Regions from separate parts of the Homo sapiens genome. Here regions 2, 3, 4, 5 and 6 are each reported to be linked to region 1. Evidence: microRNA targets listed by miRTarBase, many of them from high-throughput screens and not tested one by one. Region 1 holds a microRNA gene; each other region holds the end of a gene's coding sequence. Distances are from middle to middle.

Region 1 (5,000 bases):
GGAAAACGTTTGGGGGTGAAAAGAAATGTTGCCTAACTGGCCTTTACTCACGGAGTGACCATCATCTCAGCTAGTTAGTGTATGAGCGGCACCAGCACCCCGGCCATGGGTGTCTGTGCTGAGCCTCTGAAAGTTGACTTATCCTTTGGGGAGCCCTCGGAAAGACACAGCTGGTATCTATGGGAATGGCTTTGGGGTGTCCTTTGGCACCATACAGATAATTTTGTTTTTTTAATTGGAATCCATGGCCTGGGTTCTTGGGATGGGGGTAGGGGGAAGCCACAAAGCCCCTGGAAATGTATGCAAAACATATGGGTGTGCAGGTGCATCATCCTAAGGCTATGGCCTCTTCAGTTTTTCCAAAGAGTCTAAGACTATAAAAGGTTTCCATCTCCTTTTCTCAGCCAGGGAGCCACAGAGACCCAGGCCAGCAGTAGGCTGGGAGCCAGCACACCGGCCCCCACCAGGTGCCCGGTAGGGGATGGGTAATAACACTCTTGAATGGTCTGGAAACTGCTGGCCCCTCAGTCCTGCCGTCCTCCCAGAGGGAAATCCTAATAGAAGAAGTGACAGCCAGTAGCTGCCATCTCAGTATTTTGAATGAAAATATAACATGATAAAGAGCAAATGAGGGAGGCTGGAGGGGCCTCCCCATGCAAATACTGGAATATGAATGTTGGCCAGAAATAAGATACTTCCTGCCCTCCAGCTGTTAAAGAGCTCCCCAATTCCTCCCTTTTGGTGCTAGGAAGGGGCCAGAGGGCACTGCCCCCAGACCACCACCCACCTCTGGAGAGCTGGGGCCGAGTGGGACTGCCTGCAGCAGAGTTAACCCTTCAGAAAATTCAAAACCTATACTGCCTAGTATTTTCCCTGCCCGTTTATTTTTTAATCAGATTTTTAAAATATCCAGCAGCACTTTGGTGCCTTTTCTTGGGGTTGGGGAGTGGGGTTATCTATGTGTGTATCTATGGGAAGGTGGGTGCCTTCAGTGCACTAAACCCCCTCTTGGGCCTGCAGCTGGACCTCACTCCTGTACCTGAACACTCTGCCTGAGCCTGAGCTAATCTTAGCCATCCATTGTGTCTCAAAACTGTTTTGGAGGTGAATAACTGTGAGGCAGGATGGAGAACCTTTTGCTCTCCCATCCAGAAGGGCACCTAACCAGGCCCCTGGAGCAGACAAAAGGAGCAGGAAGTCAATCACTTCGATCCCAGTTCTCTGAAGCCCAAGAAGAAAACGGATTTTCCTTCGTTTTGGTTCGGAGGCCTAGTAGAGAATTTGGATTCCACCAAGTTCTCTTTTTTCAAAAAAAGTAAACGGTCCAGAGCAGACAAAAACTGTGGAAACTTGAGGCCTGGGTAGTAGTGGTTTTGTTTGATTTTGAGGCTTTAAAGAGATAAGGAGACGGTGGTGGAGCTCCGCCACGCCGCGTGGCTCTCACTTCCACGCCGAGGAAGACCGACCGGCCCCTAGGTTTATCCTCTGGGAGCCCCCGGCCCAATCAGCCCCCTTCAGGCCTTGGGAGTCACCCCGAGTCTTATCTTCTGTCCCCTTCCAGCAAGTACCCGGCAATAAACGGGCAGGGCTGGGCAAAGGTCTGGCCGCTAGAAACGGAAAAGGAAAGAGAAAAGTAAAGTTAAACAAAAAACAAAAACAAAAAACCCTTGGGTCGGGCGCGGTGGCTTACGCCTGTAATCCCAGCACTTTGGGAGGCCGAGGAGGGTGGATCACGAGGTCAGGAGTTCAAGATCAGCTTGGCCAATATTGTGAAACCCCGTCTCTACTAAAAATACAAAAATTAGCCGGGCGTGGTGGCGGGCGCCTGTAGTTCCAGCTACTCGGGAGGCTGAGGCAGGAGAATCGCTTGAACCGGGAGGCGGAGGTTGCAGTGAGCCGAGATCGCGCCACTGCACTCCAGCCTGGGTGACACAGCAGGACTCTGTCAAAAAAAAAGAAAAAAGAAAAAACCCGCTTTCAGCGGAAAGATGCAAAAAATGGAGGCCACCGGGCGTGGTTGGGAGAGCCTGGGCTTTCGCAAGGAAGCGCCAGGGAGCCCAGTTCTGCTCTAGCGAGAAGCAGGGAGCCTCATCCCAAGCCCGGCGGGCCGAGCCGATCATAGGGTCTGCGCGGGGCTCTGTGGATTTTCCGTGTAGGCGGCGGCTTCCAGTCTCTGCCGGGCGCGGGCTGGGTCAGCGCCGACTCCTCCGAGAGAAGAGCGCGCCTGGCGGCCGGTTCGGCGGAGGCCAAGTCCCGGGGGCTGGGGCTGCTTCTCTCCACGCGGACAAAGTGTGCGGGCAAAGAAAGGGGCCGAGGCGGGTGCTTCTGCCGCTCGTAAATTTGTTTCCCCTTCCTTTTAATCCGCCCCCGGACGTCTTTCTTTTCAGGACAGGAGGGGATGTAAACCGTTTGAAGTTCATCAACACGGTGAAGTTTTATTGTATTTCCGGTCCCCAAGATTTATACCCGGGAGGGGGAGCGGGCGGCCAGGTGGACTCCCTCGCTACCTCGGACTTCCCTGCCGGACACGTGGCCACTCGGACCCTCGCTTCTGGGCGAGGGCGGGAGGGAGCCTGGACTGGGCCGCGGCCGCTGGCTCCGCACCTTCCGACGGCCGCGCACTGCCGGCACCGCCGCCGCCCAGGTAAGTCCGCCGCCGCCCTCGGCCTGCACAGCTGCGTTTTTGCGATGGGTGCGGGTGTGAGCGTGAGCACCTGTGAGCAGGCGGGTGTCTGGAGAGGCAGAGGTGAGGAGCGGGCACGTTAGGGGGCCAAGGACCCAGACCGAAGGTCAGGAAGGAGGAAGCAAATTTGTTCTCTGTGTCCCAATCCCAGTCCTTAGCCTCTCAGTCCTTATTCTGCGAAGATTCGGAATGAATTGTCTTACCTGGGGCAGCTCGGCCTCTGCAGAGCCAGGGCCCTGGGACATTTTGGGCAGGGTGCCTTCACAGCAACTGTTCAGATCAACCGGCTTTCCCCTCCAAATCCCATTCTTCCTCTGTTTGTTCCCTAGAATTCCCGAAACTTTCTGACACTCTGCTTTTCCACCTTTCTCTCTGTCACTTTCTTTCTCAGCACTCTTTTGTCTCACTCTCCTGTCTGAGCCCCAATCTCAAAGCTGGGGGGTGTGTAGGACTTGAAGATCTGGCCTCTCAGAGCTACACTGGGAGGCTGGGTGACCTGGAATACAGGGGCTAGCAGGGTGCTGAGTATAGATGCACCTTCGTATCTGTTTGAAGTTGAGAATTCTTTTTATCTGTGGAGACCTCCAGCTGGGCTGAGAGGCAGAGACTGAGCAGGTATATCAAAGAGGCCCTGCCCAGGCTTGTGCCTGTGTCTAGGGTCTTCTTCTCTGGCCAGGGCTCCTGGAAGGCAGCAAATGTCTCTGGAATCTGAGCTATCAGGACCGGCTCCAAAATGGTTTTACCTAGAGTCCTGGGTTCAGTTCTTCCGATGTGTTGTTTAGTAGCAACTGGGTTCTTCTGTTGGGGAAGAGGTGGAGCAAAATGAAGTTAAGCCGCTTTTTGGCCCACAAAAAAATGGCCACAGGGTTTGCCCCCAGTGAGCTCTTGACCTAGAGCTTGAATTGGAACTGCTGAGTGAATTAGGTAGTTTCATGTTGTTGGGCCTGGGTTTCTGAACACAACAACATTAAACCACCCGATTCACGGCAGTTACTGCTCCTTGCTTAGCTGGAGGAGTTGGGGGAGGGGAGCAGAATCAGGACTGGAAGATCAACCTTGCAAAATGGGGAAGAGGTTTGAGGTCCTTCATCCAGGAGCAACAAGGATGTTCCCCCAGAGAAGAGATCTGGGAAGTGTCTTCCCACTTCTGAATGTTTTTTTGTGTGTGTGTTAGGAGGGGAAGGGGGATGAGGAGCAGTCAACTCTCCCGAGGCACCTCCCTGGCCCTGTTGGGCTGTTCAGCCCAACCCAAAGATGGCAGTCAGAGCTCCAACTTCCAGCCTTAGGGTCTCTGAGCTCTCAACTACATCCAGAACTTTCCAGAGAAACTCTCCCCAACTTCACAAATATTTGATTTCAAAAGAAATGCAGGGGGTTCTTGAGGTTTTTGTAACTCTTTGCGGGCTGGTGCTCCACCTCAGCAGGAAGCTTCAGGTCCTTGAAGAGGGCTCAGTAGGTCTCATTCTGAAAGGCAAACACTGAGAGCTCTTGCAATCTCAGCCTAAAGCCCTCAGGGTCCTGTCGAAGGCCCCCTATGGGACCAGACCTACAGAAGTAGGTCCGAAAAGTCCTTCCTTTCCTAATCCCTCAGTTGACTTTTTCCTCCCCACCCACCCCAGTGGCCAAAGGCTTCCCACTGGCCTTGGGCTGGGCTGGGGGTACACATAGGTCCTGAGTGCCACCTCCTTGGAGAGGGGCCTGACTTGCAAGCTAATGGGGAGCCCAGGTTGTTGGACAATTCAACCCCGACTGATGCAGTGACAAGGGATGAAACCAGGGGTTGGGCAGGGCAAGACTCTGATACCCTCTCTGACCTCGGTCCTCTTAAGGCTGTTGGCCCTGTGCCCAGGAAAGGAATAACTAGAAGTGCTGGTGGAAGAAGGGGGACTTTCCAAAGCATAAGCTAACTTTTGTTCCCAAACCTTCCCCCTGCTGCTTGAGGCAGAGGAAATGTGCAAAGGGGCCCGGGAAAGAGGCCCGACCGGATGGGGCTTCGGCGCCAGGCTGACTTGGAGGGCCAGGGGGTCTCTGAACAAGGGGCTTCTGCTAGAGCAGAGGGGCATTAGGGAGACCCACCCCTAGCCTAGGGGAAATGGAGCCTTCAACCCACTGTCCTGATAAGCAAAGGCTAACAACTCTGTCCCTTGACAGTTTCTCATCCTCTGGTCTGGGTGGAGATGGCCTGGCGCGTCCCTGCGGCCTTATCTCACTTCTCCCTGGGCCTCTCACAAACCTGCCCAGTCACTCAGAGCCTGACTGTCTTCCATCCCTGGTGTCCCTTGGCCACCCCCTCCCAGGAAAAGTGCTGTAAAAAGAA
Region 2 (5,236 bases), not on the chromosome of region 1:
ACATGGCTCATTTTTACTTTAGCTTCCAAACAGTGAATCTGTTATAAAAAGGAAGTTTTCAATAATCAAGGGCACAATGTAAGTTACATATATACTTTTATTATTATATATAATTTTATCATATGCACAAATAACTCATAAATATGTATATAAAACTAAAATGTCCACAATTTTTCTAAAAGCACAATTCACAAATGCAATGAATTGGATAGCCATTGGCACATCAAAAATTTTAATAAGTATAAACTGGTCAATTCCAACCATTTGGTAATTTACAATGCAGGTTATCACAGTATCAAAATACACCTTATTAAATTTGTAAAGAATATGCTATGTTGCTAGCTTCCCAAACCAACTGTTTCTAACCAAATAAAGCATATTATTTATATTGGCATACTATACTCTTGCCTGACAGGCAATATTTTTAACTCTAAGAGGGGTAGGTAAAAGATCAGTTTTTTGGAAAATAAAAGATTTATATAAAAAGTCTGGATAAAAAAGCAGTGGTTTAGTACAGATGATTCAACTTTTGGTGAGGTTTCTGTATCTATTTACCTTTTAGACATGGGGAGACATGAGTGCTATGATAACATACGGTTTGGGGAAGGCAGATTTCTAAAGGCTTTTCCTAACTGTAGAAGCTTGTCAAATTTTTATATAACATACAATTTTTAACTGTCAAAGATTCTGTGAAAGTACACAGAAGCAGGTCCGTGTAATTATTTAAGAACAAGGTAGTTTAAAAAATGTGTTGTAAAGCATGGAAGAAAATAATAATAGGTAAGGAAAACCCACAAACATCTGACTCACAAATATTTTCTTATACAGATGCTGAGGTAGAAAAAGTCAAATATGCTTAAGAAGAAAACATACGAAGGATAGGTAAAGATATACAAGTTTTAAACTATGAAATTCCTCTAATGCAAATGAACTCAATACTGAATGACTTTTCCACAGTCCTCCATGCTTCCTTCCTTGCCATGGAAACGTTCTAATTAAATTGAAATTTAAATCATAACCAAATCCAAATGCCTAATAAAGTCCTTTCATCACTCTGTTGTCCTTCAGTTGTCTTTTATACTCTATCTGGTATTTTATAGATATTATTTGACTGGAATACTCATGTATCCAAATGTATATTTTAATTTTCTTCCTATTTAAGTGTCTTCAATTTCTATAGGAAAGAGGTCCTATACAGTTTCCATGCTGTAAACTGAATGAGGCTGAGTGTAGGATGAACATGGCAATCAGAGAAAGCTGCTAAATGAGCCTCTTGTTTGGAAAGAGATAAGCTTGAAGATAAAGGTACAGTCAGATAGGTGGCAGAAAGTCTCCAGACTGAAGGGTTTGAACATCACCTTATAAACAATGGTAAGTTACTGGAAGTCCTCGAGCAGAAAAGTAACAAGAGGAAAACAGTATTTTAGGAATACACATTTCAGAACATAAGCTGTAGGAGAAGAAACCAGAGGTAAGGAAATAAGTAGTGCCCAACAGAAAAAACAAACAACCAGTGGATGCAAGGCACTGCAAAAAGATAAAAAGAAGCCTAAGATCCTGTAATGGTAATCAACTGAAAGTGGGAGAAACATGAAGAACCTAAAATGCCTCTGACATTTCAAGGCTAAATAACTTAGGACAATAGTGTATTCCCTGGGTAGAAAATGAAAGCAGGAGGTAGTCTGAGATTTCAGGAGACTCCAACTACAGAGGTTTAGAGATGAATTAGCACTAGGTGGCTCATCACGCCTGTAATCCCAGCACTTTGGGAGGCCGAGGCGGGCGGATCATGAGGTCAGGAGATCGAGCCCAACATGGTGAAACCCCGTCTCTACTAAAAATACAAAAAAAATTAGCCGGGCGTGGTGGCGGGCACCTGTAGTCCCAGCTACTTGGGAGGCTGAGGCAGGAGAATGGCGTGAACCCGGGAGGCAGAGCTTGCAGTGAGCCGAGATCGTGCCACTGCACTCCAGCCTGGGCGACAGAGCAAGACTCTGCCTCAAAACAACAACAACAACAACAACAAAAAAAAAAAAAAAAAAAAAAAGAGAGAGAAAAGCTGGAGTTATCAGTTCACCACTAACAGAATGTTGAGACAAAGCAGATGAAGGGTCGTATCTTACGACTGGGGACAGGAAAGAAGACCATGAAGGTGCTCTCAAGATACAGTGGTCATTTTTGGTCTGGGGACTGGTTCCAGGATCCCCTGTGCATACCATAATCTGCACTTACTCAAGTCCTGCAGTTAACCCTGAGGAACCTGCCTCTACAAAAAGTTGGTCCTCCATATACTCAGATTTTGCATCCCACAAATACTGTATTTTAGATCCACATATAAGTGGACCTGCACAGTTCAAACTTGTGTTGCTCAAGGGTCAACTGTATATGTAGGAAGGAGCAGTACCATTGTGGAAATGATGGGAAGATAAAAGAAAATACAATTGTCACAGAGAGGACAAAGAACATGAGAAAGGAGAACAAACTCAGATTTGACCAAAAGACAATGGCTTGTATTACACTGGTAGAAGCAGCAGCCTCAGAAATTACAGGGTATTTAGGGAAAGTGGCTATTAAAGAAGCAGGTATAAGGGACTCCAAGTCTGGGAATGAAAGAGGGCAAGATTGTAGTAATAAGTGAAGGATCAGTGAAGATTTTAAAAAAAAGGAACTGAGCCATAAATTTTCTTCTTTTTTCAATTTAAAAAAAAGCTTTAAAAAAAGTTACTTATACATAAATACAAAACATATAATACACACACATATTGTTACACACTTTGTTGTTACCATTCTTAAGTACAAATTTTAGTTATTCTTAGTATCTATAGATATATGTCCTAAAGCATGATTCAGTAGCAGCTTTTCCTATCCTTTAAACGTTTTCATACTCTAAGGAGCAAGATTCTCAAAGGTATCTTTATCAATCTCCTTTGGAAAAAAAAAACCCACACACACACACACACACACACACACACACACACACACACAAAAACACATATACACATAAATAACCTCTTTAAAGGCATCACCTTAAATAGATAAAACTCCTTAGTGACTGCTGGAACTTTCCAAGCCATACATTATTTGTTTAGTAAGTCACTATCATGATGAAAAGAAATTCAGTGTTATGAAGTCTATTAAACAGCCTTAAGCTTTCATTTATTCCCTTTGATGAAGCTGATTTGAGAGAAGGACCATTTATATGTTATGAAAATAACAGACACTCCTTTGGATTTCACAGATTATAATTAAGAGAACGCTATTAACTACAGAATACTGATTGCAAAGTATTTCATTTTTAAAGATACTCCTTGAGCCAGAGAAGGGTTGAAATGTTTTCTTGAAGGAAGAGTAGAACCATGATAAAGACTATAATCCCAAGAAGGAAACAAAGTACTTCAAAGTTAGAAAACATGATGTAAGAAAACATTGGAAAGTGGGATCATTCATCTGGGACATATCATTAGAGAAAGATAAAATTGAGAGGTGTTCTTTGCCTTAATTGTGCACGAGTAATAAACTAATCGTGTCTGTACATTTCCCAACAGAATTTGGGCCACCAAATATTTTCACGTACATTATCCCATTGATTCTCACAACAACACTGTCAAATAGTAAAGGGATTCTTCTTTTCTTCTCCATGAAGAAACTAGACTGAGAAAGGTTACGTAACTAGCTCAAGATCATAAAGCAAAGCTGAGTTTGAGACCCAGGTGGGTTCCCAAAACTAGGACTGGAGCTCTTTCAACCAAATAATGCTCAATAGGAAAAGGAGTCAAGGACAAGCTCCAACTGGTAAAACAATCTGGATGAGTTAAGAGTTCAAAAGTTGAGAAACAATGTTGTTAAAGGAAACTAAACAGGTTTCTTGGATAAAATGCTAAGTTATAAGAAGCTCTGGCTAAAGAGCAAGAAGATGGATCAGCTGACTTCTCAGACCACTACTATTGTTACTTTTCTAGAATATTTTTATTTACTCTCCTCTTAAAGTCTCCTTTATTTCCTCCTCCTGATATGATTTTTTTTTTAATGACAACTCCAAAAGAAAGGATGAATAAAAAAAAAATTTGGCAACTCTTGGAACCTAAATATAAACCCTGTTGGCATGTTTACACTTCTTTTTGGATATCAGCTGTATAATCCTTTAGCCAGATTCAGTCTCATTCCTAACACAGTTAAGTGTGCTTTGTAAGGGTTTTCTTTGTTAACTTGCCTCACACATATAAAAAAGAAAAACAAATACACAGTCACATTTCCCAACACCTTTCCCCCACCAAAAACACAGTATAGGGTAGCCAGGTACTTTGAAAAAGTATCATTTTAAAACATAACTATTATTGTAAAAATAAAAAATAAACATGACAAATCAGTCACAAGGCAGGGAGGCAGGAAGTCATACTACAACAAAAAGTCTATGGATGAAGTATCTGCTTAATACTCACACACAGAAAACACTCTCAGAAAATGTTTCTTTAATTTAGTTTAACTAAAATTTCATCAAGGTAGAATGCAGTTTTGTAAAAAGTTCCAAGGATCCTATTACACAGTTGCTAATTAACCTTCAGTTCCTTATTTATACATTTTTTACTTACAGATATAAAAGGAAAAAAAATCCTAGAAATTATTTTAAACAGAACATTATACAATTAATTAAAAGTAGGAATTAGAGTGGAACAATGTGGCTTTAGATACTGATAATTAATAGACAGGATGAATCACAAAATATATTAAGTATTATCATTTTCCAGTCTCTGCATCTCATCTTGTCCCATCTGTCCAAGGTGAGACAAAAGTTTGCTATAGGCTTCCCTGTTTAAGAAAAAAGAAAAGAAAGCAAATATATTAACATTTTCATTATTTTTCATTTCAGTATTTACAAATTAAGTCTGCCCATCATCCATCCATCCATCTATTCAGCCATCCATCCAGCAGGCTTAGCACAACACTTCTTAAAAAGTAATGCTTTATATCTATTGTGAGTAAACCTAGATGTTAAGATGTATTAAAGTATGATTTTTATATATAAAATGTGTGCTAAAAATGACATGTAAAAGTTCATTAACCTTCCGAAATATTATAATGCTCACGGGTAATAAAATGCATTCATGGAATATTATTTAAGGACAATGATGGTATGATTACAATGGGAAGACTTGTATCACAAGCGTAAGTATTAAAACAAAAATTCTGTAACCATAAAATAGACCTGTGTAGCAATTTCAGTATATATCCCATTTTC
Region 3 (5,236 bases), 25 Mb from region 1:
AAAATTGTAAAATACCATAATTCTGAAATGGGTCCTTCGTGTCACCCTCCCCTTTGAGAGTCCTAGTGGTGGAAGGCGGGAATTTCTGAAAGTGACTTTTTTTTTTTTTTTTTTAAAACATGAACTGCAGAATGAAAGTGACTCTTATCAGGGATCTCCGAGTAGCCTCTCCAAGATGACTAAAACACCAAGTCATGTTAGTTACATTAAAGAAAAAGTTAGGCACGCTCATGTACACACATGTACATATGAACTGCAATAATGCCAACATAAGATAACTTGACCAGAAGTCTATTAAAGTCCTTTCAGGGTCTGTGTCCTGCAGTTACAGAATACCATTTTGTGTCTATGATGATCACAAAATTGGCATAGGCTTTTAGTTTTTATCTTCGCTTATACCCAGAAGCCATCTTATTTGTCACCTTTTTTATACTCTGTCCCAATGACTCATACATTCCCTTGGAGGCTGAGAACTGCCTTCTTTGGTTGGAAATTATTGAAATGAATGGGAAAAGCAGGTATAGAATATGTGCAAAAGAATTAGGATATAGTTGAAAGGATTTGGAGTTAGGCAGCCCGTGCTTGAACCTGGACTGGACCCATCCTCCTAGAGCTGTGTATTAAGGACAATAAACCCTGCTCAGCCTGACAGGGTGGCTGTGAGGAGAGGATGAAACGTTTTAGGAGAGCGTACTTTATCAATTCCAAAGCCCAGTATATGTCTTCATCCTCAAGCTGAACTGGAAAGGTACTCTTAATAGAGCGCTGTACATGAAACCACAGTAAAGCTCTTAAACAAAACAGCCTTATTGTGACCCTGTTTCTTTCTTCTTCCTTCCAGTCTTCAGGCAGTGACAGTGGTGGGAGCAGCAGCAGCAGCAGCAGCAGCATCAATAGCCCGGACAGGGCCAGCGGGCCGGAAGGCAGCTTGAGCCAGACCATGGCCGGATCCAGCCCTAACACGCCTCAGCCCGTGCCCGAGCAGTCCGCGCTGTGCCAAGGCCTCTACTTCCACATCAACCAGACCCTGAGGGAGGCCCACTTCCACAGCCTACAGCACCGAGGGCGGCCTCTGACATGATGTGCCGGCAGTTTCTTGCCTTCTGTGAAGGGACAGCGCTGTGCAGATTTGATATTTCAACTTACAACTTGTTTTAAAAGAAAAATTGCACACGAAAAATGCCTGTTGGCTTTTCAGTCTATATTTGAAATAACAGGTTAACAGGCAGTTGTTTACTTGTGGTTTTGCTGCACTATTGCAATTTCAAAGGGGCTTTGAAGCAATTTTTTATAGGATTCTTTTGAGGGAGGGTATCAAATCTATGTCAAGGTAGTGGTTTGAGGAAAACTCATTCTGTGTGTTGAATCCATAGTATGTCCCATTCAGACTGATTTCCAAATCTGTCAACTAGAAACTCTACTTTATGTAAAGGGCCTTTTAAAAATGCGGGATCTTCAATTTTTTTTATTCAATAAACTAGTAAAGAGTATCTAGTTTCCATGAAAAAACATAAGTTTTTTTCCAAAATATAGGAAGCTTGATTCAGTCTTGCACTGAAATTAACTGCCATACTACCTCTCAGTATGTAGATGTTCTATTGAAAGTACTCTCTCCTGTGTAACAGGAGAACAATCAGATCCAATTCAGACTGTCAGTGAAGCACACTCCCTAATAATAGTCTCTACTCTTTGTTATATATTTGTATTTCCAGAGAGAATGTCTTTTAGATTCTTGTATACCCAGATAACTTCTGTGTCACTATTCCACCAGAGTCTGCACCTCAGACTTTAGTAGGAAACATGGCACAGTTCTGCAAGTAAAGTAATATGTAATGACTTTTTGTCCTACAAACTTGGTCAGTCAGCAGCTTACATGATCTCATTGACAATTCCACCTTGTAGTGTCAACAATTAAGGTGTTGTTGAACGCTGATAAAATGTAAGCTACCTGAACTGATGTCTAAAGCAACAAGTATTGTGAAATTTTGGGACAAGGATTAACTTGATGCTTAAAGTAACCCCCAACAGTAACTAGGGGGCCACATTCCATCAGTGAAACTGGAAAGATTGGTGTGGCTGAGAATCAGATGAGCAGAGGCACCTTTAGAAGAAATAATGTGGTAGTATTTATTTAGGGAGAGACAGATGTGTTGCCATGTTACTTAGTCATACTAGAGAGCCAGCCAAGTTTGAATAATGAAGGTGCAGACGTGTTGTCTTCTTCACTGACAAGCTGTCTGAACAAGGAGCCAGGAACTGTCGGGTCACCAGCTGTGGAGCGTGCCGGGGGGACAACCTGCCATTGGATGTAGAGAAAAGTGCCTTAGAGTTGGCCTGAGCCCTCCTGCCCACTCGCCCTCCGCGCGACGCCACTCGGAGTCCACACGGCACACACAAGCGGAGCTGAGAAGCACGATGGCTCTAGTCAGAGGACTTTGCTGTCGGTCCAGATTTGAAGAGGACACGGAACAGCATGAGCCTTTGTGACAAAACTAGAATTTGGAAATGAGGACTGTCTTGGGAAAAGGGTAGACACAGGCACTTCTCTCCACAGCCTGCTAACCTAATGTGGGCAGAACTGAAAGATCACTGCAGTGGAAACTGTTCTGGAAGAGGCTGCAACATAGCCCATGCTTAGGGACTGGATGGTTTTTGCAAGAGCTTTTTTTTTTTTTAAACTACCATCTCCCAACTTTTAAAGCCAGATACTTGACAAGGATTTTAGATCTTAATGGGTTCGATGGTAGGGAATACGGAAAGGATACACTGCTAATATTGTGTCTAACAATAAAGCAAACAACTCGATGCTGTAAGAAGACAAGCTGTTTGAGCTTTCAAACACACATGCACACAGCACAATTCAGAAATACCCAGGAGGATTCCTGCAGGCTTAACAGTTGGCATCGTACTGAAATGAAACGTGTATTAACAAGAAAATGTCAAACTTTTGGGGAAACAAATTTTCTGTTACTTCCCACCCAACTAAAAGGGAAGATAAAACCATCATCACCAGAACAAAACAGATTTTCTCCAAACAAGTACAATGATAGTGCCGGGTTGGCAGTTAACTCTTTCACCCTACTAAATTCAAGAGCTCATCTCCACCCTGTCCTGTATATTTTCTACATTTCTATTAAGAGGCTACTTGGTAGTGTCAGCGGGCATCTTTTACACCTTCTAGTAGCTCAAGCTAGTAAAACCTTGTACTTCTCTATTGCGCCGCCATTAAAAGCAGCATTAGTGCATTTTGTCATTCAGTTCTTAATCAGTTATTTAAAAGGGAGCTGATCATGGGTGGCTCGGTGGGAGGTGGGGACCCATCCACGGATGAGCCTCTTGCTCTTGGCACCAACCTGAGCTTTTGTTTCGATGTTTCTGGTTGATTTAGCCTTTCGAGTGCTTGTCATGCTCAGTGGGAGAAGTCCAAACCTCCAAAACAAGAGGAAAGAATTTAGTAGCACAAACAGGCAGCTCTGGGGCCCAGCAGAAGCCTCATTTTTTTTTTTTTTTTTTTTTTGAGACAGAGTCTCGTTCTGTCGCCCAGGCTGGAGTGCAGTGGCGCAATCTCGGCTCACTGCAAGCTCCGCCTCCTGGGTTCACGCCATTCTCCTGCCTCAGCCTCCTGAATAGCTGGGACTATAGGCACCTGCCACCAGGCCAGCTAATTTTTTGTATTTTTTTTAGTAGAGACAGGGTTTCACCATGTTAGCCAGGATGGTCTCGATCTCCTGACGTGATCCGTCCACCTTGGCCTCCCGAAGTGCCCCGCAGAAGCCTCTTGGCAGCCTTTACCTGATCTGACTGGATGCCAGTGGCAGGATGTTATGGGGTTCTTGGGAGTTGAACGTACTGCTCCGGGGGGCGAGCTGATTCTCTGTACCAGTCACCAATCCAAACAGAACCTGGCAGACAAGAGGTGGAGCAGAGGTTTCATTGTGCAGGTAAAAGAAAGGCAAAAAAAAAAAAAAAAAGGTTAGTCACCCATCGCTACCGTATTTCTAACTGTCATTTTGGGGAATGTTCTGAGTGCATTTATGCTTCACGATTACTTTTTATCACTGCCCACAGGTCAGAATCTGAGAGGCAGGGAGTTTTTATTCCTCTTTCTGAGGCCTGGATAAAACTGTAATAATCCTTATTTACAACTTAAGGGGCCAAATCTTGGTTGCCTCAGTGTGTGAGATTTTATCTAATCCTCTTTCAGTCCTTATAACTACACTCGGCTATTTGTGTCTTATTCCCCTCCCTATGCTGCATCCTGGAGTATTACGTGCTTGAGCAGGTTAATTTTGTTATTTGAGCCTGTATCGCTTCGTTCGCACTAAGCATGTTTTTGATTTGACTCACAGAAGTTCGCTGCACCAGGCGATGAAGGTTGCTGTTGAGGTGTGGCGTGAAAACGTCCAGGTCAAATGGATCAATGAGGGCTTCCAGGTGGTCAGTCACTTTCTCAATTCTGAGAAAAGGATTAGGATCATTACTGTCCACATTTTTTAGGATCAAAAACAATCTTATGATATCCTACTGCTGTAGAAATCTTGGAGTTGGGTTTTATTCTACTTAGTTGCTGGCTTAGTACGTTTGTCACTGATGATAGTGCTTAAGTCACCCTCAAGCATGATGTCTAAGTGAAGTCCACCCTTTCCCCCGTTCTGTCTATAAGGAGGGCACTAAGGGCTCAAATGATACTCAGCAGCTGCTAGGCTGACTCAGAAGAGAGGGGAATAAGAGTCCACCTATTTCACTTGACCATTGCATTTATCCAGCAGGCGGCCATTATTTAACTTGCTGGCAATATGAGCACTTACTGTTCAAAACAAACACAATGAATGTGCAGTATAACAGGCTGACTCTGGTGGCTTCCCAGCAAAGGGACTATTTGCTTTTGGAAGAGACCGCCTTGACATAGCTCCCTAGAGGATACGACACCTGGAGTCTGGCTTGCTCCGGCCACTCTTCACCTCGTCACCCTTGGCTGTCAGAACAATGTTGAGGTAACGCAGATCATAAAGCAGCTGCAGCGCCCGGTTCTGGGTGACTGGAAATGCACCTTCTTTCTGCAAATGAATTCCCAGTCCCCACCCATGAAGAGAGAGGACTTGGTATGTGAGCGTAATAAACAGCTTCAAGTTTTGGTTGAGTTTCAGCTTGCTATTTCAGAAGCAGATGGTTTTAATGCTCATATGGCCAGTTTAATCTCACAACAACAAAACAAATTTTGTTAGAAACTTGACCT
Region 4 (5,236 bases), not on the chromosome of region 1:
AGGCCACTGGCCAGCTGTTCCTTCTGGGCTATTGCCACTACATGTAGGTAAGAGTGTGGTTACATTATAGAGCAGGGCTTCTTGAGTTTGACAAAGCACGAATCCCAAAATGGGGCATAGGCTGTAATTCTGATTTTTTTCCACATTCAAGTTATGGCTTTTCTACAGTTGATAAAACATTTTTTTTTAAATTGCCAAACATGGATATTTTGATAGGTTGCACAGCTCCAGTTTGCATAATTCTGAATTATGTTAGTGTTTCCTATTTGGCTTACTGTTAAGCTTACAAATAATAATTAGAAATTAATTAGAAATAATTTTAAATTTCTAAATAAAATGTTTTAGTTTGAGTCAACTTTTTTTAATGTGACTCTGTTTGGATAGTGAACTTATTAAAACAAAAACTCAGATTTGATATTGATGTTTTATGCTAAGATATATAGTAGGGAGTCTTTTCCAAAGGAATTAGAGGCATGCTTTTTTTTTTTAATGGAAAACCCTTTAAAAGCTAACACGTAACGAAAAAATACCAAGTTTTTAATTTTTTTATATATTGACTATAGTCAGAATTTGTATCTGTTTTCATGTCTTTTTTTTTCTTCATTACAGGGGCAGAAAGCGTTTTGTAAGCGAAGGAGATGGAGGTCGTCTTAAACCAGAGAGCTACTGAATATAAGAACTCTTGCAGTCTTAGATGTTATAAAAATATATATCTGAATTGTAAGAGTTGTTAGCACAAGTTTTTTTTTTTTTTTTTTTTAAGCACTTGTTTTGGGTACAAGGCATTTCTGACATTTTATAAACCTACATTTAAGGGGAATTTTTAAAGGAAATGTTTTTTCTTTTTTTTTTGTTTTTCGAGGGGGCAAGGAGGGACAGAAAAGTAACCTCTTCTTAAGTGGAATATTCTAATAAGCTACCTTTTGTAAGTGCCATGTTTATTATCTAATCATTCCAAGTTTTGCATTGATGTCTGACTGCCACTCCTTTCTTTCAAGGACAGTGTTTTTTGTAGTAAAATCACTGGTTTATACAAAGCTTTATTTAGGGGGTAAAGTTAAGCTGCTAAAACCCCATGTTGGCTGCTGCTGTTGAGATACTGTGCTTTGGGAGTAAAAAAAGAAAGTTATTTCTTTGTCTTAAAGAATTTTTAAAAAATTAGTCATGAGACTTATTCATCTTTCCAGGGAACATACTGATTGGTCTTAAAAGACTAGACAGTTAAGTAAAAGGTGGCTGGAACATCTATTTTTCTACAAAACTGGAAAAATGAACCTGGTTCTAGAAGAATGTACACCAAAATAAAACATGTGAAGCAGTATTGATTCTTTATTGGGAGTACATTTTTTTAGGTCTCTTAAACTTTAATTTCACACAGTAAATTTTGAATCTCATAAGGAAGCATATTTGAACCTAGTCAATTTAATCTTAGTGTTCCCTTGAAAACTTTTTTTCCCTACAAAATTTTAAGTGAAAAATACAATAGTAAATTAAGATTACACTGGGGAAAAAAATGCAGGTATCACTTTACTCCATTGTTATCTGACCTAGAGCTTAATTAAGTTTTAGAAATATGTAATACCTTCCATCATTCCATCATCCTTAAATTCTGTTACCAAATAATGGCTAATGTTACAAAAAGTTATACTCCAGAGACCCAAAGCTTGACATTTACCTAATGTATGAGAAAATATTACCAATTAACAATAAAGAATGATCATATTTTTAACCTCTTTTACATAGCCTAATAACTCAGCAAGGCCTCAACGTCTGTGCTAATTTAAACTGCCAAATATTGACTGCAGCAAACAAGAATTATATTCAGAATTTATGAGGGTACTGTTAGGAGTATACTGCTTACAGGTTTAGATATAGTCTGTTAGAATTAAAACCAAGTTTAGTGTTCATATTTACCTCATGGGCTTTATCAAGCCCATATTACCTCAGCTTATATATAGTTACCATTTTTAGGTTTTTAATTGTTTGACACTTGGATGATAAATGCAGTCATTTTATTCTCAAGTGCTTAAAATTAATGTAATTAAAAGCTTAGCTGACTACAGAATAGGTGAGGGTTTCTTAAAAATGAGATTTAAGGGCTGGGCACGGTGGCTCATGCCTGTAATCCCAGCACTTTGGGAGGCCGAGGTGGGCGGATCACTTGAGGTTGGGAGTTCATGACCAGCTTGACCAACATGAAGAAACCCTGTCTCTATTAAAAATACAAAAGTAGCCAGGCATGGTGGCGCATGCGTGTAATCCCAGCTACTTGGGAGGCTGAGGCAGGAGAATTGCTTGAACCTGGGAGGCAGAGGTTGCAGTGAGTCGAGATGGTGCCATTGCTCTCGTTTGGGCAACAAGAGTGAAACTCTTGTCTCAAAAAAAAAAAAAAATGAGGTTTAAGACAGTTTTGTCATTACTGGTGGGATCTGGTCACACAAGATAGCATTAAACGTGACATGGCACATAAAATTGGTTAAAAAATTTTGTTTTTTAATTACGTAATGTAAAAGCCCAACAAACACTTTATGCAAGATTGGAATGTATCTTCAAATTCAGATTTAATAAACATGTAAAGATCCTCTGTATATAAAAGTTGTATTTAATCCCTTGTGCCCAAGAATGCTATAAAAGATCCCAAGAATGTTATCTATAAAAGATAGCAATAGGAATGGTGAACAAATAATTTAATTTGCAATTCTAAAAACATGACTTAAACCCCATAAAACTTGGTTCATAGTTTAACTGTTTATGTTCAATACAAACCAGAGTGTTTACATTCACAATACAAATTTCATCAATCTTGGATATTTTTGTATTTCTATGAATACTATCAATTTTATTGATAACACATACTACTTTCAGCACACAGAAGCATATTTTCTAGTTATTGTTAAATAGTAGATAAGGCAGGTTGTTCCCTAAAGTGCTCAGTTATCATTCAGTGGGTTATTTGCCGTTGATCCTTTTCTGCCATTTCTTGTTGGCGAATTGTATTCTGTGCTGCTTGATGCATTTTCTCTAGTTTTTCCAGAGTCAGAGATTTTAAGGGTAAAAGTTTGGGTTTACACAGCACCATTGTCATTATATCTTCCACAAACAGTGGCCCTAAGTTTAACAAGAAATAAGAATTAATTCAAGAAAGATAACCCAGTTGTTTGTAGTTGGATTTGCAGCTAGAATGAAGGTCTAAAAAATTAATCTCTTGTCACTGAAAAACTCTTGTACCTAAATTGAGTTTTGCTCTGGAACCAGAAAGATCATTGTCATTCTATAAGCGCATTTCTTACTAGTAGGGTGCTTCTGAGGAAGACAAGTTTTGAGCGTTCTACCCAAGAATCTATGCTACCATAAGACACAACTTTTTGTGTCAGAAGTTTAATCTTAAAATAAGATTTGGCAGAATATATATATACATAGTGCAAAAAAATATAGCAAAATATGATATTTAACGTAAATATTCAAATGACTGAAGGTTTAAACCTTCGGCTTTTCTTACTGTTGCTTCAGGTTTCTCTTTCTCCACTTTCAGACCTTATTTAACATAGTAAATTCCATTATTTCTTTCACTGAAGTTTCATATTGAGTAGGGCATGGTAGCTCTTACCTGTTATCCCAGCACTTTGGGATGCCAAAGGGGTTGGATTGTTTGTTTGAGCCCAGGGGTTTGAGACCAGCCTAGGCAACACATTGAGATCCCTTCTCTACAAAAATAAGAACAAATTAGCCAGGCATGGTAGCACATGCCTGTAGTACTAGCAAATCAGTAGGCTAGGGCAGGAGCCCAGTAGTTCAAGGCTGCGGTGAGCTACGGTTGTGCCAGCTGTACCCAAGCCTGGGTGGCAGAGTGACAACCTGTCTCTTAAAAAAAATTCATATTGTAATTAGGAATTTTAGGAATTAGCTAATTAATAGGCAATTTTAGGTATAAGAAACAATGTTTCATTTGTTATCCTTTTACTGGATGTCATGAAAAAGCATATAGTAAAAGACAGTAAATGAGATAATACGGAACACAATAGCTGCAGATGTTTAGCTATTAAGCCTGCTATGTGACACTGCCTATGACTTCTTTAGTCCTGTAATAATCAATGACCTCAATATTTGTGATGTACATACCTTGCTTTGGAAGAACTTCCCGGAACATTGACTTCACTTCTGCCATATCTGAGTTGTTGGATATAGTGTTTTTTCCTTCAATGAGAAATCAGTATTATTCAAGAATACATTCCCAAAGCAGACTGCCTGAGACATTTCCATTGTAGTTTAAGAAGTAAAATCCAAATTCCTATAGAAAGTGAACTACCCTAACCTTGTATAATATTGCCATTAATTTCCTGTGACCTTGGGATAGTTTGTATAAGCATTTAGATCTTGTCAACTTCCATTAGTCAGTTGTGGTGTTAACTACAAGGCTAGGTGTTGTAATTTTTTTTCTCTCATAGTGAAAACTTGGTAGAGCTTCAGTTTTTAAGGCAAAGATGATTAATATCATCTGAGGAAAAGGTATTTGTGTGTAGCCAGCGTGGTTCGTTGATAGCATCTCCCCTGAATGGTGGGTGACAAAAAACATGACCACCATTTGATGGGGGTGGTGAGGCAGGTAGTTAGGAAAAGTAGGAACTGGCAGGCTAACATTTCCTAAGATTCCTACTTGTCTCAACGGCCAACAGCTGGTTTCTACTTTGTGTCTAACAAAAAGAATCCTATGGATGACTGACTACACAGCTGCAATTGGTAACGAAGTAATACAATAGGTGAAATTGGCTCTTGCAGAACAGAAATAGAGTTTCAGTTTACTATTTTCCTCTAATACCGAGATTCTATATGCGAAAGGACCAACAATATTTAACTATTTGTTATGAACATCCCAGCATATATGCCATTTTTGCCAGTGACATTTGCTCCAAGTATTACAGTCAAGATTCTGCTATGCTGTGTGTTCAAGGTGTTCTGGACTAAGCTGTAGAATGATCCCTTTCCAAACACAGATGCTTTTCTAGACGGTCCCACCCACTCAGTGATTCACCTTGCTGATGCAACCTTACCATGCATCTTTCACAACATCACCCCCACAGATTTATTATTTATAAAGTGGTGAATCTGGCTTGGTGCCTGCCTTTACCAACCACTGCAAATTAATTATAATCAAGTGAAGCTTCTTCTGGTTTTTGTTATTCCCGCTCCACTACTTTGACATTCCTAATAAAAGCTTCCTACTCTGTATTCAAGTCTC
Region 5 (5,236 bases), not on the chromosome of region 1:
AGCACTGCTGAGCAGCAGGAGGGCCCAGCTGGGGCCAGAGCTTTAAGCCAAAGGAACAAAAGTTAATTTTGAGAAACTCAGCATTAATCAGCAGTTGGGAGACATCTCCCAACCCCTTCAGCTCTGTGTGACATCCAAACCAAGGGTAGGCATGGGGGCTTAATTGTCAAGTGATGAGGACTTGGATAACTTGGTTTCTAATGCAGACCACAGTCCTGTGGATCTCTTCCAGAGGCAAGGGCCTTCTTGACCATCTGTAATGTGACCACTCTGCCTGCCAGCTTTGGCCTCAGGCACGTGGTGCCCCTGCTTCATGCACTGCTGTACCCACAGGACCGGGGCTTCTGCGTGGAGGTGAACACGGCCTTTGAGGACTTCGCCCACGTCATAAGCTTTGACAAGAGGGCTGCCGCACTGGACGCAGGCAACATCAAGCTGACCTTCAATAGTGTGAGGGGCTGGGCGGGGCGTGGGAAGTTCTCTAATTCATCTGTGTCTTGCTCCATTCCTTCTCACTCACTGTCCCACTGACTATATTCCCAATTCAGGGGATGGTGGTAGAAGCCCAGACCCTAACTTTCCACCTCCTAAGGTATGCCTGAGTGGGACCTGGCATCCACCCTCCTGGGTGACCCTGTTCCGTGTCCCTTCTTTCCTCAGCTGCTGGAGAAAGCAGAGGCACGGGAGAGGGAGCGGGAGAAGGAGGAGGCACGCAGGATGCGGCGCAGGGAAGCTGCCTTTCGAAGCATGCTGAGGCAGGCTGTGCCTGCTCTGGAGCTAGGCACTGCCTGGGAAGAGGTCAGGAGCGTAGCCTGGCCCCAAGCACCCCTCAAGCCTGAGGGCAGCGGTGCTTCACCACTGAGGGCCCACCCCAGTCACGTCACAGCCCTGGGCCAGCTCCAGTTCCCTTCCTTTCTCTGCCCCAGCCCTGCCCTGTGCTCATGGCGGTGTCCAGGCCAGGCTGAGTGGGGCCTAGTCTGATCAGCAGTGCTCTCCTCGTTCAAGGTCCGTGAGCGTTTTGTGTGTGACTCAGCCTTTGAGCAGATCACCCTGGAGTCGGAGCGGATCCGGCTCTTCCGGGAGTTCCTACAGGTGCTGGAGGTGAGGCAGGCTTGTCCTCTGGATCTGCCTCAGGCCCTTGAACTCATTAGACCAGTTCAACAGAGACCTCAGTGGCCTCCCTCTTACCCTTAGGGCACTCCTGGCCAGCTAAGGAAGGGGAGGCCTGAGGATCCCTGGGATAGGCAGAAGGCTCTAGTCTGAGAAAGGGAGGCAAAGCCAGATTTTAGGAAGTAGGATCCTTCCTGGGGCTAAGTCTGGTGCTGTCCTCACCCTTCTTCCTCTGCCTCTAGCAGACTGAATGCCAGCACCTCCACACCAAAGGCCGAAAGCATGGCAGGAAAGGCAAGAAGCACCATCACAAGCGTTCCCACTCACCCTCAGTGAGTAAGCGTGTAGAAGGGACATGGGGTGAAGCTGGGTTGTTTTGGGGAAATAAACACTTTGTTTTCCCCTTACAATATCTCCCTTGGAGGGAAGTTTGAGGATTCCTTTGGCCCTGGGTCCTCCTCCTCTCTCGAATTCCCAGACGAGGGCTTCTGGAGGGCAGAGAACCTCTGCACTGACATGTATCTGCTGATCTGCCCAGGGCTCTGAGTCAGAAGAAGAGGAGCTGCCCCCACCATCTCTCCGGCCCCCCAAGCGGAGGAGGCGGAACCCCTCAGAGTCAGGCTCTGAGCCCTCTTCCTCACTTGATTCAGTTGAAAGTGGGGGTGCTGCCCTTGGAGGACGGGGCTCCCCTTCCTCCCATCTTCTTGGAGCAGGTAAGCAGTTGCTGTGAGCGTAGAAGCTGGAGAACTGTTGTCCCAGACTGAGAGGATGCCCTCCACAAGCCCCAGCTCCTTTGAGGGTAGACTGGATTGGGAGGGCTGCACCTGTGGAAGTAGAAAGAACTTCCTCTACCTGCCCAAGCAAGAAGCTGGAGAAGGAAAACTGGACTTAGACTTCCTCAGAGCATGAGGTTCCTGCCTGTGAAGAATGAACAGAGGGGCTAGAACAAAGAAAAAGAGCCTGTCTTTCTCCTGTTGGGACTTAGTAGGGATTTTTCTATCTCTAGATCATGGCCTTCGGAAAGCCAAGAAACCAAAAAAGAAAACTAAGAAGAGAAGACACAAGTCGGTGAGTGAAGGAACTTCTACCTAAGCCCCTGCTATTTTGTGAGTTCTGTTCTACCTGCCTCCCAGGCTATCCACAGGAACTGAGGAGGTGGGCTCTGGACTCTTACAGAATAGTCCTGAGAGTGAGACAGACCCTGAGGAGAAAGCTGGCAAGGAGAGCGATGAGAAAGAACAAGAACAGGACAAGGACAGGGAGCTCCAACAGGCAGAGCTCCCTAACCGTTCCCCAGGCTTTGGAATCAAGAAGGAGAAGGTGAGGGGCAGGGGCCCTAGGCCAGTCAGCACGCTGGTCAAGCTTCCACGGCCCTTAGTGCAGGCTAAGGGTGAACTGTGCCTTTGCTCCAACAGACAGGCTGGGACACGTCAGAAAGTGAGCTGAGTGAGGGTGAGCTGGAGAGGCGGCGGCGGACACTCCTACAGCAGCTGGATGATCACCAGTGACCCAATGAGCTGTTCTCTGCCTCGGGTCTGTGTGAGGCCATGGCTCCTGGGCCACCCTCACCGTCTGCCTCAGACTTCTTCCTTAGTCTGGTCTGTGTCCACTTTTTCTAAAGTAACCCCACCCCCAGCACACCATTGTTGGCACCTCTCAAGGTTGCTCTTGGTGTTCAAGGGTCCCCTACTCCCTGGACTAGTGCAGTCCTTGCCCTCAGCCCCAGACCAGAGATGGGTGGTATATGCCATGTGGGGTGGGTGATGCCAGTAGATAAAAGTGTGAGAGAAGGGGTCTCCAGGGAAGAGTCACAGGCTGTTGGACGCAGCCTGGGTGGCAGAGGGCAGGGTCATCACCCTCTAGCATCAGTGCCTGCTCCTGCCTGCCCTGGCCCTGAGGCTCCACCACTTCTTCCTCCACCCAGGACCTAATGTACGTGTGTTTTGTTTTTTGTTTTTTAAATAACAATATTTATAACATGGCCAGTGACTCTTTTCCATGTGCTACTGGGGCAGGCTGGGGACTGGACACATGCCCAGCAGAGGGCACTAGTGTCTCATGGCAGGCCTGCTTCCCTTTGTGTGGCTAGAGCCCACCTAGCCGGTTCTCCTTTCCCCAGAGTTCTGATCTCATCTCCTCCAAAACAGATGCAGTGCCCCAAAGATTTCTTTTCTATCCCCATAGCCCAGGTCAGACTAAATGGCCACCCTAGCCCCCTAAGCTCAGAAAGAGGAGACAAAGTCAGGCCTGGTGCATCAAGCCTTTGTTGAGAGGGGGAGAGTCTGAGGTTTATGTACAGTAAGAGGAAAGGGAGGTGGTACATGTACAAAAAAGTGGGCCCCCACATTCCCTTCCAGGGGCAGAGGAGAAACGGGAAGGTAAGCAAATAGCCAAGACCACCATGCTCCTTGTCCCCTGCCAAAAAAAAAAAAAAAAAAAAAAAAACCGTAGCTGAGGAAAGAAGGTGAAGAGTTGGCACACCCTTTCTCCAGCCATCTGCAGAGAGTGGTTGGTGCAGAGAAGACCTCTGCTCTTCTGCCCACCTTGACAAGGACAGTGTGAGCCTAGAATGAAATGGGCAGAGAAATAAGGGCAGTGAGCCTGACATCTCTCCTCTTACCCTTATCACTAGGGCACAGCTGGCACGGCCCATGCTTCAGAGGGCCTTGCTCCTGGTAAGAGATGAACTGAGACTGGCAGGGTCCCAGGGCTCCCTAAGCCTAGATACATCTAGACCAGAGCTGACCATGGGCCTGCAAAAAGGAAGGGAAAAAAAAAGAAAGAACAGTTGCTCTCTCCTCTCATCCCTCTGGGCTCTAGTGGGAGAGATCTATGTGCCCTGTTTAGGCTAAGGCTGGAAATGGTTTTTCCTAGCCCTGAGCTGACCCTTGGTGACCCTTCAGGAAATGAAGTCAAAGACCTTGGGGGCAAAGTGCAGTACTGGAAGCACCAGGGACCTACAGACCTAGTGCCCATAGTGGCACAAGTAGAAAGATCCAGCCTCAAGAGCTGGGGCGGACATGGTTGAGAGAGCAACACAGCCCTCTCCTGAGCCCTTGGCCAATTCCAGGTCCACTGGTTGGACTTGTAGGACTCTGAGGGGTGAAGTGCTTCTGCCTCCGAGAGGGTCTCAGTGGGGGCCTGGAGCCCGAGGGGGACCACTGGGCGGTGCAGCACTCCTGGCTTGGTGGCGAACAACCATAGGCTGGCAGTGGAGGCCTGTGGGGGAAGAGAGAGACCTGTGAACAGGATGGGAGGGTGAGCCAGGACAGTGCCCTCAAGAGCAGCCCCACAGGTAGGGCCAGGGAGGAGCCAGCAGTGAGGCAGATAAACAGGAGGCTTAGATAAGGCTTGAGGGGTACCCAGTTGGGGAAATTGCTGGTTGGGGAGATTGCTGGGCTTTGCATTTCAGAGGATCAGGTTGGGGTGACTAGAGGCCACTGGGCAGTGGAGAGAGACAAGGTAGATGCATTCAGAAAGAGCCAGAAACTAGGAAAAGACCCCAGGCTGACTGGACGTCAGGAAACAGATCAAGGGACATCTGATACCTCCTGGTCAGAAGCTACTACCAGAGCTCTTATGAGAAGAGAACCGTAGGGAAAGGTTCCTTAGGCCTGGGAATGGACCCTCAACCTCAGCCTCAAAGATCAGAACTGTAGGTCTGGTCCTGCCTGCTCTGGCCTGTTCTCAACACTGGCCTGGTGACTCCCTACCCACTTGGTCTTAGTAGAAGCCAGGACAGCATTAGTGGGAGAGAGACCACTTCCCTAAGGACACATGCAGGGGATATGCCACACTTCTCAGAGCATGGGGCATGCAAGAAGTATGTGTCCCCATTGCTGGGAGGCTGCCAGAGGGTGATTGCAAGTCATGCAGGAAAGAAGGTGCCTGTGGTCTCCCAGCAGGAATCCTGGGAGACGGGCATGCAGAGGGGGCAGCTGCGGTGCCCAGTACCTGTCGGGCCCCAACCTTGGGGGCTAACAGTTTGACTCATCATGGTGGGCTGCATCACAGAAGAAGCGTGAGCCCCGCTTGGCAGTACGGGCCGTGAAAGGGACACTCTTCAGCACTGTGGCCCAGGAGAGAGACACAGTGGTCAGGCCTCATGGGGGGTGGGGTGGGAGGA
Region 6 (5,236 bases), not on the chromosome of region 1:
GGCATCACCAGGAGCAGATGCCGGCACCATGCTTCCTGTACAGCCTGCACAACTGTGAGCCAATTAAACCTCTTTATAAATTACTTGGTCTCCGGTATTCCTTTATAGCAACACAAATGGACTAACATAGACTCTATTTCCAAATAAGATCACATTCTGAGGCACAGAGCTCAGGCACTTTCTGTGTCCCTCCATTTCACCCCATTTCCTCACTCCAACTCTCCCTAGTCGCCTTCATCTCTAACTTGGATGTTCTTCCAATTGGGATTCCCCACAAGTCCTCTCAGCCCCTTTAATCAAGTGTCCATATCACAGCCACTATTGGTTTATCATTTTTGTAGATAGAGGTAGTTCTAGTGACTTTCACTTGGCCTATGCCACCATAACAGCCTTCATTCCACAGGTCAGGGACCCAACGTAGAGATTCTGCTAGTTGCTGAGTATGTCTATTCTAATCCTGCATTCTAGAACGCAGGTTCCATTCCTGTGTAATAATCACAGGATCATTCGAGGGACCCATGGGACTCACTGTGAAATTGATCTGAGCTAAAACTCTATAAGCTCTTACTCTGACTGGTGGACCACAGTAATGTTTTGAGCCTCCTGGAATTAGCATCAATTCAGTGTCCAGTAATCCCTAAACTATCTGATTATTTTCCCTTTCCCCAGGGCATAGTTACCCCAGTAAATAGCCACGGGTCCATTGAGGGAAGACTGGGGGAAAGATAAACAATATAAACCTGGCAATGTGGTAGGGTTCTTCCTCAAGGGGAACCCAGCCTCTCCTTCATTGAAGGGATTCTGGAGCTATAAACCAGCTCAAGTCTAGGAAATGATTCAGAGGCTATGACTCACTTGTGGTGACTTAAGATAGACTTCTGTTGGCTGGGCACAGTGGCTCACACCTATAATCCCAGCACTTTGGGAGGCCGAGGCGGGCGGATCACCTGAGGTCAGGAGTTTGAGACCAGCCTGGCCAACTTGGTGAAACCCTGTCTCTACTAAAAATACAAAAATTAGCCAGGCATGGTGGCAGGCGCCTGTAATCCCAGCTACTCGGGAGGGTGAGGCAGGAGAATTGCTTGAACCTGGGAGGCAGAGGTTGCAGTGAGCCGAGATCATGCCCCTGCTCTCTCCAGCCTGGGTGACAGAGTGAGACTTGGTCTCAAAAAAAAAAAAAAAAAAAAAAAAAAGACTTCCGTTTACTCAGCCTAGAACTCTTCCACATACATAAATCAAATAAGAATTTAGTAGACTGCCATCTATTTCTTCCATAGGTACACAATGATCAACCAGCCAATGCCATAGGTCTCTGAGTCAGACAATTCTTGTTAATTTTTGTTTCATAAAATTTTTTGTAGAGATAGAGTCTCACTATATTGCCCAGGCTGGTCTCAAACTCCTGGCCTCAAGCAATCCTCCTGCCTCTGCCTCCCAAAGTTCTGGGATTACAGTCATGTGCCAGTGTTCCTGGCCTGAGTCCAACAATTCTGATGGCTGCTTTGACTCTGCTGCCCATTACAGCATAACCATGCCACGCTATCTTTGCTGATTGTCACCATTTGGCCCCTGCTACCCTGGGATCAAATTAACCCCACTGCCTCTAGGGGTCCCAGTTTGATGGTAGCAGTTCCCACTGTACATTCTGACCTACAAAGAAGAGAAACCAAATTTGTGGGCCTCCTTCTCAAAAATCTATTTCTCACCATCATGGTGAAAAGTGTATTCTCTTGACTCCTCCAGGGTGGGTGGGTGGGGCTTATATGATAAATCCACCCTAACATTCCAATCTCCCTGAGCCTTTGAATCCCTTCCTCCACAGTACACTGAGGCAGTTCTGGCATTTTGACTTTAGTGTAGGCCATCTTCGAGTCCATGTTCAGCAAACCAACTAAACTGTTAAGAGTCCTTTCTAACCTCTCAAATATTGAATCCAGAATCTCTGCTGAGTGGGCCAATATCAATAAAGTTGTCCTGACTGAACTTTACAGTCCTACCACCATATCCTACACTCTAAGATCCATTCCCACACATATTCCCCAGATTTCTATCTGTATAGACTGGGAAAATCATGGAGTCCTTTTGGTGTGCAGGGTACCTCCTCATGGATCATAATTTGTACCTCACTCTTTGGTGCCTACTGGAACGTGAGTCTAGCTGTACATCTAGGAGCAAAGCAGGTAGCAAGGGCAGACCCTGAGGCAGATGAGTGATGCCTGGTAACGAACACCTCTGAAGAGACCATTACAGATCCTTCAGGCAAAGTAGGATTAACCTTCTCAGACAGAAGTAGAAGGGCTGCTTCTACCGGCAAGAAATACTACGCAGAATTTAGGGGTTCCATTTCACTGGCTTCATCAGGATCCTTTCTTATGTCCCCATTCCACTTTTCAGGATCCCACTGCTTCTCAATCAATGCTCTCACCTTATTTTTTTAAGAGACAAGGTCTCACCCTGTTGCCCAGGCTGGAATGCAATGGCAAAATCACAGCTCACTGCAGCCTTAATCTCCCGAGCTCAAGTGATCCTCCCACCTTAGCCTCTGGAGTAGCCAGGACTACAGGTGCATACCACCATGCCCAGCTAATTAAAATAATAATCTGTAGAGATGAAATCTTGCTATGTTGCCCAGGCTTGTCTCGAACTCCTGGACTTAAGCAATCCTCCTGCCTTAGACTGTACTATCTTATTATTCTAAGTTTTACATTTGGGGAAGTGATACATGTGAACCTTTTCCATAGACAACAAAGGGCCGGGAGTAGTGGTTCATGCCTGTAATCCCAGCACTTGGGGAGGCCATGGTGGGAGGACTGTTTGAGGCCAGGAGTTCGAAACTAGCCTGAGCAACATAGTGAAACACCATCTCTACCAAAAAAAAAAAAAAAAAAAAAAAGTTCTTAAATGACAAGGAAGTACAAATACACAACAGATAAAAGAGGAACACTCAGGTGGGGCTTGAAACCTATACTCTGCCTCTTTTCCTCCCTTCCCTCCAGGGACCCTCTAAAGAACCTCATAAGAACACCACTAGGGCTCCCCAGAGTAATCTAAAAGCCACCAAGTCAACTCTTTTTTTTTAAAGCTATCGCCTACAGGAAGAACAGTCAACTCTCTTTACATTAACTCATTATTTTCTTACAATCCCAATGATCTGCAGTACTATGTTCAAAAACAATCTGAGTAAGCCGGGCGCGGTGGCTCACGTGTGTAATCCCAGCACTTTGGGAGGCTGAGGCAGGTGGAACACCTGAGGTCAGGAGTTCGAGACCAGCCTGGCCAACACAGTGAAACCCCATCTCTACTAAAAATACAAAAACTTAGCTGGGCTTGGTGACAGGAGCCTGTAATCCCAACTACTCAGGAGGCTGAGGCAGGAGAATTGCTTGAACCCAGGAGGAGGAGGTTGCAGTGAGCCGAGATCATGCCACTGCACTCCAGCCTGGTGACAGAACGAGAGACTCTGTCTCAAAAAAAAAAAAAAAGCAACAAACTACATTCTCTTTTATTCCATATCCTTCTACTAAGGAGAAATGGGGTAAGGATTTAGTGGGATATACATAAAGTAAAGCTGTGTTTCTTCTATCAGTTAAAATTTCTACTGTTTTACTGATGAAAAGAGGATAGTTTTATTATGCAATAGTCTTAATAAGGGTTTGTTTTAAATTGGTTCTTATTGGTTGGTGAAAAGTAACTGCAGTTTTAAATGGCAAAAATCATTAAACACATAAGATATAAAACTGGGGCTTTGAGGTTATGAAGCTTAACTAAGTGTAACCATGCAATCTCTGATGGGTTGGGAGGCTTGGAGATTTAATTATTTTTTTCAAACGCTATTTTTTGGCAGAGGCTTCCACACCATTTGTAAATTACTTTTTGAAAACATTTACCAAAAGACTAAGGTACGACTACCACATAAAATTACTGTTTAGGGAGACAGAACTTCTGCATGAACTTTCCCCTTTGGGAAAAAGGGTTTAAAAAAACAAAAAGTAACATTTATTTGCGCCTAGGCTAATAGAAAGAATGAGACTAAACCCCTTGTTTGTTTTTATTGATTCTTTTTAAGATTGAAACAGACTATTACAACAATATTTGAGATTTCACAGAGAACTGCATGCTTTTGTTATTAAAAGACTTTTGTTGAAAAATTTGACCTTTACCTCTTATGAACGAAAGAAATATAGAGGTTTCAAGCATTTTTGCCAGCACAGAGTCATTCACAACAACCTTCTAGATGCTTATTTTCTACCTTTTCCTACAGAAGGTAATATTCAGTTACCAGAAGGCCATCTCCACCACTGAATGATTCAAAGCTTCAGAGCTCAAAAGTGATCAGAACTCACAAATTAGCATAATTAGTCCAAAGCTTGATTTAAATGTTTGAAGAACAGCAAACATCAAATAATATAATACCAAATAGAATATTATAGTCTCTATGAGGTAATAACTCATCAGCTACAACCACCTAAAACTGAAATTTTCTGTACTTAGTTTCTATTAGTACAACACCTTCATTCTTAATGCTTCTTAGGGCATCACAGGTTTTAGAAATTAATGTATTTTTAGCATTCCACAGTAATGATCACTTTCAAAAACTGCAATATACATCTGCATGTTACACTGACATACAACACATAAGTATTTTGTCACACATCAACTTTTAGCCTCAAATAATAGAATACAAAAAGCTACACTGGACATAACACCACAGAACTTTTGAATATCCCCTTTTCCCAATTGTTAACAGGTAGTACTTTTTTTCTAAAGAGAAAGTGATGAAAAATCCAAAATTTCTGCATCCAGTGTTTGACTCCAACTTTCTACTTTATCGTCTCCTGGTACCACCATATCCTAGAATGAGAGGGGTAAAATTTACATTAGTTTTTAAAAATGCATTAGAATTGCTTATAAAATTACAAGTCATACATGTTTATTGTCAGCAAATGAATGAGATAGGAGGAAAGGAAAGAGTGTGCCACTAGGTGGAACTGGGCTAAGCAGGACAGTGCATCGCCTCCCACAGCAACCTTCCCAATCATCAAGCCTACTACACTCACACATGGTTGCTGGGAATGACAGTTAGGACCCCAAAAAAGAGAATGCATTCTATAGTGGGGCCACCATGGTACAGGCAATACTCAAAGTCTAAGCCAAAAAGACAGAGGCCAGTGGCGCATAAGCCATGCCCTGCTACCTCTCACAACTCCAGTGGTAAGAGACGTAATGTGGGGAGGGT

What was found. The annotated mature microRNA hsa-miR-196a-5p reads UAGGUAGUUUCAUGUUGUUGGG and lies in region 1 at 3,605-3,626, shown strand. An mRNA with a match to its seed (bases 2 to 7 or 8) in the 3' UTR can be bound and repressed. Matches are read on the target gene's strand: a 7mer-m8 pairs with bases 2 to 8, a 7mer-A1 pairs with bases 2 to 7 and ends in A, and an 8mer does both.
Region 2: the mRNA of MMS22L is a reported target of hsa-miR-196a-5p. Seed matches in the 3' UTR shown: 7mer-m8 at 1,676-1,682 and 7mer-m8 at 733-739.
Region 3: miRTarBase lists VCF1 as a target of hsa-miR-196a-5p. Seed matches in the 3' UTR shown: 7mer-m8 at 1,572-1,578.
Region 4: miRTarBase lists PDCD4 as a target of hsa-miR-196a-5p. The part of its 3' UTR that is shown has no 7-base or 8-base seed match.
Region 5: the mRNA of FMNL3 is a reported target of hsa-miR-196a-5p. The part of its 3' UTR that is shown has no 7-base or 8-base seed match.
Region 6: the mRNA of SARAF is a reported target of hsa-miR-196a-5p. Seed matches in the 3' UTR shown: 7mer-m8 at 4,746-4,752.

Annotation. Positions count from the first base shown.
Region 1 is chr17:48,631,158-48,636,157 of GRCh38, reverse strand. MIR196A1 (microRNA 196a-1) reads left to right here and starts at 3,599; the gene lies at 3,599-3,668. HOXB-AS4 (HOXB cluster antisense RNA 4) reads right to left here. Exons shown (of 2, transcript NR_046611.1): 2 at 1,226-1,607. It overlaps LINC03057 (long intergenic non-protein coding RNA 3057), which reads left to right. Exons shown (of 2, transcript NR_186590.1): 2 at 1-1,354.
Region 2 is chr6:97,142,082-97,147,317 of GRCh38, forward strand. It overlaps MMS22L (MMS22 like, DNA repair protein), which reads right to left. Exons shown (of 25, transcript NM_001350599.2): 25 at 80-4,806. The coding sequence ends at 4,725. Among named protein-coding and RNA genes, the nearest start is that of MMS22L, 140 kb to the right of the region's middle.
Region 3 is chr17:73,205,374-73,210,609 of GRCh38, reverse strand. VCF1 (VCP nuclear cofactor family member 1) reads left to right here. Exons shown (of 4, transcript NM_001098832.2): 4 at 842-3,245. The coding sequence ends at 1,081. It overlaps COG1 (component of oligomeric golgi complex 1), which reads right to left. Exons shown (of 14, transcript NM_018714.3): 10 at 4,930-5,057; 11 at 4,348-4,456; 12 at 3,793-3,902; 13 at 3,354-3,429; 14 at 2,103-2,296. The coding sequence ends at 2,159. Among named protein-coding and RNA genes, the nearest start is that of COG1, 15 kb to the right of the region's middle.
Region 4 is chr10:110,897,419-110,902,654 of GRCh38, forward strand. PDCD4 (programmed cell death 4) reads left to right here. Exons shown (of 12, transcript NM_014456.5): 12 at 610-2,588. The coding sequence ends at 670. It overlaps BBIP1 (BBSome interacting protein 1), which reads right to left. Exons shown (of 4, transcript NM_001195305.3): 3 at 4,120-4,194; 4 at 1,312-3,108. The coding sequence ends at 2,942. It overlaps MIR4680 (microRNA 4680), which reads left to right and starts at 672; the gene lies at 672-737.
Region 5 is chr12:49,641,575-49,646,810 of GRCh38, forward strand. It overlaps FMNL3 (formin like 3), which reads right to left. Exons shown (of 26, transcript NM_175736.5): 26 at 1-4,329. The coding sequence ends at 4,241. It overlaps PRPF40B (pre-mRNA processing factor 40B), which reads left to right. Exons shown (of 26, transcript NM_001031698.3): 19 at 334-450; 20 at 661-798; 21 at 1,006-1,101; 22 at 1,356-1,442; 23 at 1,649-1,823; 24 at 2,117-2,178; 25 at 2,287-2,430; 26 at 2,526-3,091. The coding sequence ends at 2,618. Among named protein-coding and RNA genes, the nearest start is that of PRPF40B, 21 kb to the left of the region's middle.
Region 6 is chr8:30,059,063-30,064,298 of GRCh38, forward strand. It overlaps SARAF (store-operated calcium entry associated regulatory factor), which reads right to left. Exons shown (of 6, transcript NM_016127.6): 6 at 3,941-4,851. The coding sequence ends at 4,826. Among named protein-coding and RNA genes, the nearest start is that of SARAF, 21 kb to the right of the region's middle.